Linked DNA regions of Homo sapiens: regions 2 and 3 are each linked to region 1. Evidence: fine-mapped expression QTL. A gene starts in region 1. Each other region holds a variant in brackets. All regions are shown on one strand. Distances are from middle to middle. Region 1 holds the start of MPZL1 (myelin protein zero like 1). Region 2 overlaps MPZL1 (myelin protein zero like 1). Region 3 overlaps MPZL1 (myelin protein zero like 1).

Region 1 (2,766 bases):
AAAAGGATCTGCTGACAGAAATAGGGCAAAGTGGTTCTGGTATTTTTTTTTTTTAAGTTTTTTTCTCACTAATGTTCTTATGATTTCGCTGTACTGCAATGTTAGCTGAAACAGCACAGATATCAGGAATGGCATTGTTAAGACTGACCTTAGACAAAAACCCTGAAGTGAGAGGTTACATTTTGGGTTCTCACCATACTCTTCCCCCGCTCTTGTCCTAATTGTCTAAAGCTTGCTTCCCTTCCTCATCGTATCAGCCTCCCACCTGAATCTTCCCTTTTCCTCCTTCACACTCATCTTTCTTGTGCCCCTGTCCCCCATTTTTCCCTTTTGTAAGCCATTTTCATAAGGATCCTTCCAAATATTTCCCCTATTGATTGGACAACCCGTAGGTGGCAGACTGTTCTGGGCCAAGGCAACCAAGTTGAGCAGGGCCAGCAATCAGTGTCGGGAACTTCTGCAGGGCACTTCAGAATCAGTGTTGGGAACTTCTGCTTTCTATTTTTCACGGACACAGACAGGAACACAGATATGCGAAAGCAAAACAATCAAAAAGCATTTTCATTTGTTTTTCAGGTAGTAGGAAAGAGTTCCAGATTCCCATCCTTCTGAAGCCAGGAGGGAGGTTCCTAAGAGGAGGTTAGGGCAAGATGGAGACTTCTTTTTAAACTAGTAGATTTCGCAAATTGCAACACATACATTATCTAGTCCACGCAAAGGACAGGCCTTGGGGACACGGCACGGGGAACGTGTTCCACCTGGACGACTGAATCAGAAGTCTCTCCCCCATCAATTGAACGCCTCATTATTTTTCTTTCTGTCTTTTCTTTCTTTTTAAGGTAAATGAATTGCTTCTTTTTCGTTAGGTGAGGCCGGCAGAGAACAAGAAGAGCTGAAACGGAGGCGAGGTTAGTACCCAGCAAAGACCTGTGGCGAGGAGAGACAATGAAGAGGACCACGGGACTGGACCCTGAGAAAGGCAGAGGAGACGCTGGCTGGTGGGGCCCGCAGGCGGACAGCCACGCAGGCAGGCGGAAGGCTCGGCTCGGCCTGGGACCGCTGCAGACCCGGCCTCCGCGCGGGGCCGAGGCGCCTGGGTGGGACCGAGGAGGCGGGGCCTTCCCGGCGGACGGATGATGGACAGCCTGACTCTCCAATCGCGTCCTTAAAAGGGTGCGGGCAGGCCAATGAGCGGACAGCGAGGGCCGGAGTGGGGCTGAGGCTTCGGTGCAGAGCTGGAGAGCCGCGGCTGGGACCGGAGTGGGGAGCGCGGCGTGGAGGTGCCACCCGGCGCGGGTGGCGGAGAGATCAGAAGCCTCTTCCCCAAGCCGAGCCAACCTCAGCGGGGACCCGGGCTCAGGGACGCGGCGGCGGCGGCGGCGACTGCAGTGGCTGGACGATGGCAGCGTCCGCCGGAGCCGGGGCGGTGATTGCAGCCCCAGACAGCCGGCGCTGGCTGTGGTCGGTGCTGGCGGCGGCGCTTGGGCTCTGTAAGTGATGCCAGGACCAGGGCTGGGGCCGGGGAGTGGGGCCCCCGGGCCCGACACACGCCCATCGCGGCGGTCGCAGGCCAGGCGCGCGCACTGAGAGCCGAGGTGGGGAGGGGGCGCGGCCTGCGCTCTCTGGGGCCGAGGGGACCCAGCCCATGGGGAACGCGGGCCTCCGCGACTGGCCGGGAAGGCGCAGAGCCTCTTTCTTCTCTTTCCTGGATCCTGGAGTGCGGAGGAGGAGGGGAGAGTGCTTTACCTTGCTCCTTCCCGGGGGGCGGTCCAGGGGAGCGGACCCGGCGGGCGGCTGCGGTGAGCCCTCGCGGCGCACCCTGCCCTCTCCTCGTGGTGACTCTGGATCGTCTAGGCCCTCCCGGATTCTGACTCAGGAACTAGGGTTCTGGCGTTCTTCACCTTTGGGAGGTGGCGGAAAGTTGCAGGTTTTTCATTTGTAGGGCCTTTGTTGATTTGTTTCCTGTTAAGCCAGGGTTTTGTTGTAAGTTCCCTTTCCCATGCTCTCATTCAGTTTTAAGTCTCCGTAATAAAAGAGTCTCATTTCCGTGGTCTGCAAAACGCCAATAAAAAAATATTGTTACTTCTAGGTTAGAATGCAAAGAGCTTGGAATACCAGTGAGATGGCCTGGCTTAAAAGAATTTGGTCAAATCCATCATAATTCCAGACGTAGCCACCATAATTTGACAAGACATAGAGCATTAAAAAGCATAATTTTCCTAAAGGAAAAAAAAAGCTCCTTTTTCTTACCAAATATTGTGACTCAAGCTTAAGGTAAACCTCGGGCTCAATTTATGGGAATTGGATGACTTGTTTTATGGACATCTGAAGTGGTATCTGCCACAGGACTTTTCTGTGTTGTTGTTCAAAGCAAAGTACTTGTTGCTGTCTCCGAATTTAGTTAAATAATAGTTATAAAGAGGGCCAGCTGCTAAGAAACCACGTAGATTTTTTTCATTCCCTTTGTTTTCAAAATGTCAGTTATGATTTAGCATCACAGTATCTGAATACCAGAGTTTACTCAGTAATTTCTTTCTTCATGGAAAAGTTCTTAATATAATCCTTGGATCAGGGAAACTAGGTGAAGTTCTGTTGGATCACCAACTGTTCCACTTAAACAGTGATTCCAGGGGCTGTAAAGCATAAATGTAAAAGTCTCCCTACCCTCCAGGGGTTGACAGATGATGACACACTTTGTGTAAGACACAATCCATTCTGTATTTTGTCTTAGAAAAAAAGGTTAAAAGTGTGTTTGTTGGTGGTGGT
Region 2 (2,766 bases), 64 kb after region 1:
GAGCAGCCTCATTTGCCCTCAAAATCGAGGTGCTGAGGCATGTTCCATAGAGACTCAGGGCTCCTTCCACCTCTAAATAGCACTCAGAATCAAACTTCATAGAGGTGTTCTAGATTGAGCTAGATCTGTCAGCAGACCCCAATCTCAACCTACATCTGCAGTTTCTCTGCATCCTTTCTTTCATCCATCCCTTCATCCAGCACCTGTGTTCTGCCAAGTTCTAGGAAGTTAACAAAGTCCCTGACTTAAGACCTTATTATATTCTAAGGGGGAAGAGGAATGAGGATAACATCAGGCAGTGGTAAACAGTTTGAAGAATACCAAGTCCATCAGCAGGAAGGGATTTCTTCAGTGTTTTCCCATTTACTTTCATGAGATAGTTGTATTCTTTTGACATGAAAGACAGTACTGTCTCACATGAAAGACCTCATTGATATTTTAACATTTACAGACTAAAAGATAATTCTGTGTTCTTTTTCCTCTTTACTTTCTCTGTTCTCATTCTTTTCTACTCACATAATATATCAATTATCTACTGCTACGTAACAAACCCCCCAAAATATAGTGGCTTAAAACACGCACTATTTATTTGGCTCCCCATTCTGTGGATTGGTCGAGCAGATTCTGGTCTGGATGAGCTCAGCTGATCTCTGCTGGCTCACTTGTGCATCTGCAGTTGGCTAGAAGGTTGACTGGTAGCTGGACAGTCTACAGTGGTCTCACTTACAGTCTAACCATTGGCAGGCTGTTGGCCAGGCAGACAGAGGACAGCTGGGCCATGCATCTCTCATCAGCCATCAGGCTGACTTTGGCTTCTTCACATGGTAGTGGTGGCTGTGTGGGTCCCAAGATCAGTGAGAGTGGAAGTGGCAAGGTCTGTTGAGGTCTGGGTGTGGAAACTGCACAGCATCACTGCTGCCTCATTCTGTTAGTCAGAGCTGATCACAAGATCAGCCCAGATTCAAGGGGTAGAGAAACAGATTTCTACTCTTGATTGGAAGGACCTACAGCATTATGTTGCAAAGAGTAAGATGCAGAGAAGGAAAGAGTTTGTAGCCATTTGTGCAGTCAGTCACACATTGTAAACCCCTTCTCCCATGAACATACCCTAAAACTCTTAGTGAGTTTTTAGGAATTATGATATGGGGTTTTATTATCTAAGAATTTATATAATTTAATGTTGGGAGTTCCGTCCTATTCTTGGAAATAGCTGTTACCAGGGAACAGTTAGTTTAATTCTGTTCCTAGTAGAAAACAGTCTTTTTTTTGTTTTTTTGAGACGGAGTCTCGCTTTGTCACCCGGGCTGAAGTGCAGTGGCGCTATCTTGGCTCACTGTAAGCTCCGCCTCCTGGGTTCACACCATTCTCCTGCCTCAGCCTCCTGAGTAGCTGGGACTCCAGGCGCCCACCACCATGCCCGGCGAATTTTTTTGTATTTTTAGTAGAGACGGGGTTTCACCGTGTTAGCAAGGATGGTCTCGATCTCCTGACCTCATGATCCGCC[C/T]GCCTCGGCCTCCCAAAGTGCTGGGATTACAGGCGTGAGCCACCACACCCGGCCGAAAACAGTCTTTTTAACTTCCTTTTGTTTTTTGGTGGGGTTAGCATTTAACTTGTAGCTTTCTGAGATGAATATAGAGGGTCTGTATGATTATTAACCATGTGATCTGTTAATATTTCCTATGACAGCCATTATAGACTAAAGATAAACACACAGAGTTTGACTATTTAATTTACTTGACCAGTTACCTCAGTGCATTTTAAAGTATGTTTGTGTAACAAGACGTTCATAATAATAACTAACATGTATTAAGTACTGTCTGTGAGACACTGCCTAAGTTATAGGTATCATCTTATTTAATTTTCATAACAACAAAAAACAAAAATGTAGATATTATTAGTAGTACCATTTTAGAGATGAAGAAACTTGTGCTTAGAAATTTACAAATGTGCCCAGGGCCACGTGACCAGTGCTCTTCTCTAAGGTTCAACAAAGACGATATCATAATTCAGACTGCAGATCTGCCAACATTCAAATGGCTCTAGTCCTCGAGTGTTATTTTCTAACTCCGCTTTTAGATGCACCATTGTATAGCCCTTACAACTGGGCCTGTCCCTTCTGTAGATGTGGGAGTAGCTGAACTCCACAGAACCCCAGGTTACACACTAAGGACACAGGTTGTTAGGGCTCCTGGATGAGGGTAAGTGTGTTTATTTTAAACCACGTGCTTTTGGCTATTGAGCTTATGATTTCAAAGGTGAAAGCTTAAGCACGTTATTAGACTTCTCAAGGAGAGTTCCCCTAGATTGGGAGAAAAGTTGACATTGGGTAATATTAAATCTTTCTTTTAAAACCAGGGCTATTTTGTTGTTGTTTACAATTTTAAGAGTCTAGACTGAAAGAGTCATGAAATGCAGCCACCTATCTGACCTCTTCCCCCAACAGTTAGGGAATTCGCTCTGCCCCCAGGCCACCCAACCTTCCCTTGCTCTCCTGAATGGGACCCTGACAATTCCCTGGAATTGTAACCTCTTCCTTACTGCTGAGGCTGAGAAGAGGATCTTTTCTACTTTACTCCATTTAGGGTTTTTCTTTATATCTGTGTAGATTGTGGCTTTTTGTTTTTTCTTTTTAATTTTATTTTAAAACAGGAAGAACAGTTATCTGATATTAAAAATCAAGGAAGCAATATTTGTATTGGTCACAATACGCTCAGACTAAAAGAATTATGCTGTAAGTAGTTGTATTGAAGAATATTTGAAGTGCTT
Region 3 (2,766 bases), 58 kb after region 1:
AGCTGAGATCATGCCACTGTACTCCAGCCTGGGCAACAGAGCGAGACTCTGTCTCAAAAAAGAAAAAAAGAAAAAAAAGAAAGTGAACAGAGCTTCAGTGAGCCACCGGACAATATCAAGCAATCTAATTAGAATCCGAGAAGAAAAAGGGAGAGAAAAAAATATGTAAAGAAATAGTGAAATTTTTAGTAAATTTAATGAAAAACATAAACACACAGAAAGCAATAGCGAAAATTGCTGGGCGCAGTGACTCAACGCCTGTAATCCTAGCACTTTGGGAGGCTGAGGTGGGTGGATCACCTGAGGTCAGGAGTTCGAAACCAGCCTGGCCAACGTGGCAAAACCCCATCTCTCCTAAAAATACAAAGATTAGTTGGGCATGGTGGCAGGCGCCTGTAATCCCAGCTACTTGGGAGGCCAAGACAGGAGAATTGCTTAAACCACAGAAGCGGACATTGCAGTGAGCCAAGATCGCGCCACTGCACTCCAGCCTGGGCAACAGAGTGAGACTCCATCTCAAAAAAAAAAAAATTGACTCTTTACAGCAAAAATAATGACAGCATTTTATGAGGCTATAACATGTGGAAGTAAAATGTATGACAACAGTAGTACAAAGGATGGGGTGGAAGGATGGAAGAATACTGTTGTAAGGTCCTTATATTATCCATGAAATTATAATTTGAAGGTAGACTGTGGTAAGTTAAAGATATATGCTGCAAATTCTAGAGCAAACACTGAAAAAAATAAAAGAGATAGATACAGCTAACAAGCTCTATCTCCGAATGGCAATACTGATAAGAACAAAATTCTGACATATGCTACAACATGGAAAATGGTAAATGCGGATGGTAATAATATCAACGTTGGCATCAGAACAAGAAATAGAACCAGAGATAGAGGGACTTTTTATGATGATAAAGCGATCTACTTACAAAGAAGACATAATCCTAAATGTTTATACTTGTAATAGTAGAGCTTGAAAATAAGTAAAACTGAGAGAATTGGAAGGAAAAATTGACGTATTTACAATCATAGTTGGAGGTTTCAACAAGAAACTTTAATGTAATCATTTCAAAATACTCAGTTAATCCAAAAGTGAGCAGGAAAGGAGGGGAAAATGAGCAAAGGGTAGATGGGGCAAATAGAACACAAATAATGAAGTGGTAGATTTAAACTCAACCAGACTGATGATTGTATTACTATAAATGGGCTGAGTGTGCCAATAAAAGGTGGAGATGGACAAATTGGATAGAAAAGCAAGAACCAATCATATGCTGTCTGCAATAAACCACTTTAAATAAAAAGATCCAGGTAGGTTAAAAATATTAATACAAGGATGAAATTGAAAGCAGAGTCTTGAAGAGATATTTGTACATCCATGTTCATAGCAGTATTATTCACAAGAGCCAAAATACAGAAGCAACCCAAGAGTCCATCAGTATACAAGTGGATAAATAGAATGTGGTATATATATACACAATGGAATATTATTCTGTCTTTAAAAGGAAAGAAATTCTGACACATGCTAC[A/G]ACATGGATGAATCTTGAAGATATGCCAAGTGAAATAAGCCAGCCACAGAAAGACATACTATGTGATTCTACTAATATCCCATACCCTACAGTGGTCCAGTTCATAGAGACAGAAAGTAGAGTGGTAGTTGTTGGGGAAGGAAGAATAGGGAGTTGTTTAATTGGTACAGTTTCAGTTTTTGCAGGATGAAAATATCGTAGAGATTGGTTGCACAAGGATGTAAATGCACTTAACACTACTAAGCTGTACACTTTAAAATGGTAAAGATGCTAATTTTTATGTTATATATATTTTACCACATTTTTTAAACAGTAAAAGGATGGAAATGATATGCTACATTAACACTAATCAAGAGAAATCTGGGTGGTAATAATATCAGAATAGGCTTCAGAACAAGAAATAGAACCAGGGATAAAGACAGACTTTTTATGATGACAAAGTGATCTACTCATGAAGAAGACATAATCCTAAATATTTATACTTCTAATAATAGAGCTTGAAAGTAAGTGAAGTAAAACTAAGAGAATTGAAAGGAGAAATTGACATATTCACAATCATAGTTGGAGGTTTCAACACTCCTTTCTCAGCAGTTGGTAGAACAGGTTTACAGAAAATCAAAAAAGATGCGGAAGACTTAACAGTGAAACCAGTTTGAGCTAATAGACATTTATAAAACACTCCTTCCATCAAGCGCAGAATTCTTACTCTTTTTAAGTACACATGAAAATTAACCAAATATAGACCATATTCTGGTTCATAAAACAATTCTCATTAAATTTAAAAGGGTTGGAATCATATAGAGTACGTTCTCTGGCCACAATGGAATTAAACAGAAATCAACAGAAAGATACCTGGAAAGTCTCAAATATTTCAAAATTGAACAACCCATGAGTAAAACAAGAAGTCACAAGAAAAATTAGAAAATATTTTGAACTGAGTGAAAATAACATATCAAAATTTGTGAGATATAGCTAAAGAAGTGCTTTGAAGATTTGTAGCATTAACTGTTTATATTAGAAAAAAATAAAGCTCTAAAATTGATGATCTAGGCTTCTGTCTGAAGAAACTAGAAAAAGAAGAGCAAATTAAACCCAACATAAACAGATAGAATTAATAAAGAGAAGAGCTGTGGAAAAATCAGCTGACATTCTCATTGTTTCCCTGTAGGTAATCTGTCGCTTCTCTCTGGCTGCTTTTCGGATCTTCTTTATGCCTTTGGTGTTTGGCATTTTATAT

What was found.
Region 2: its variant is fine-mapped to the expression of MPZL1 in monocytes (TOPMed, PIP 0.90).
Region 3: its variant is fine-mapped to the expression of MPZL1 in blood mononuclear cells (TOPMed, PIP above 0.99).

The regions. Positions count from the first base shown.
Region 1 is chr1:167,720,753-167,723,518 of GRCh38, forward strand. It overlaps MPZL1 (myelin protein zero like 1), which reads left to right and starts at 1,230. Exons shown (of 6, transcript NM_003953.6): 1 at 1,230-1,490. The coding sequence starts at 1,400. RefSeq lists silencers at 870-1,239, 1,630-1,699, 1,730-1,869 and an enhancer at 1,558-2,058.
Region 2 is chr1:167,784,535-167,787,300 of GRCh38, forward strand. The region is part of intron 5 of MPZL1 (myelin protein zero like 1); the gene reads left to right. Among named protein-coding and RNA genes, the nearest start is that of MPZL1, 64 kb to the left of the region's middle. The variant C/T (reference allele first, on the strand shown) is at 1,505.
Region 3 is chr1:167,779,067-167,781,832 of GRCh38, forward strand. All of the region lies in intron 5 of MPZL1 (myelin protein zero like 1), which reads left to right. Among named protein-coding and RNA genes, the nearest start is that of MPZL1, 58 kb to the left of the region's middle. The variant A/G (reference allele first, on the strand shown) is at 1,530.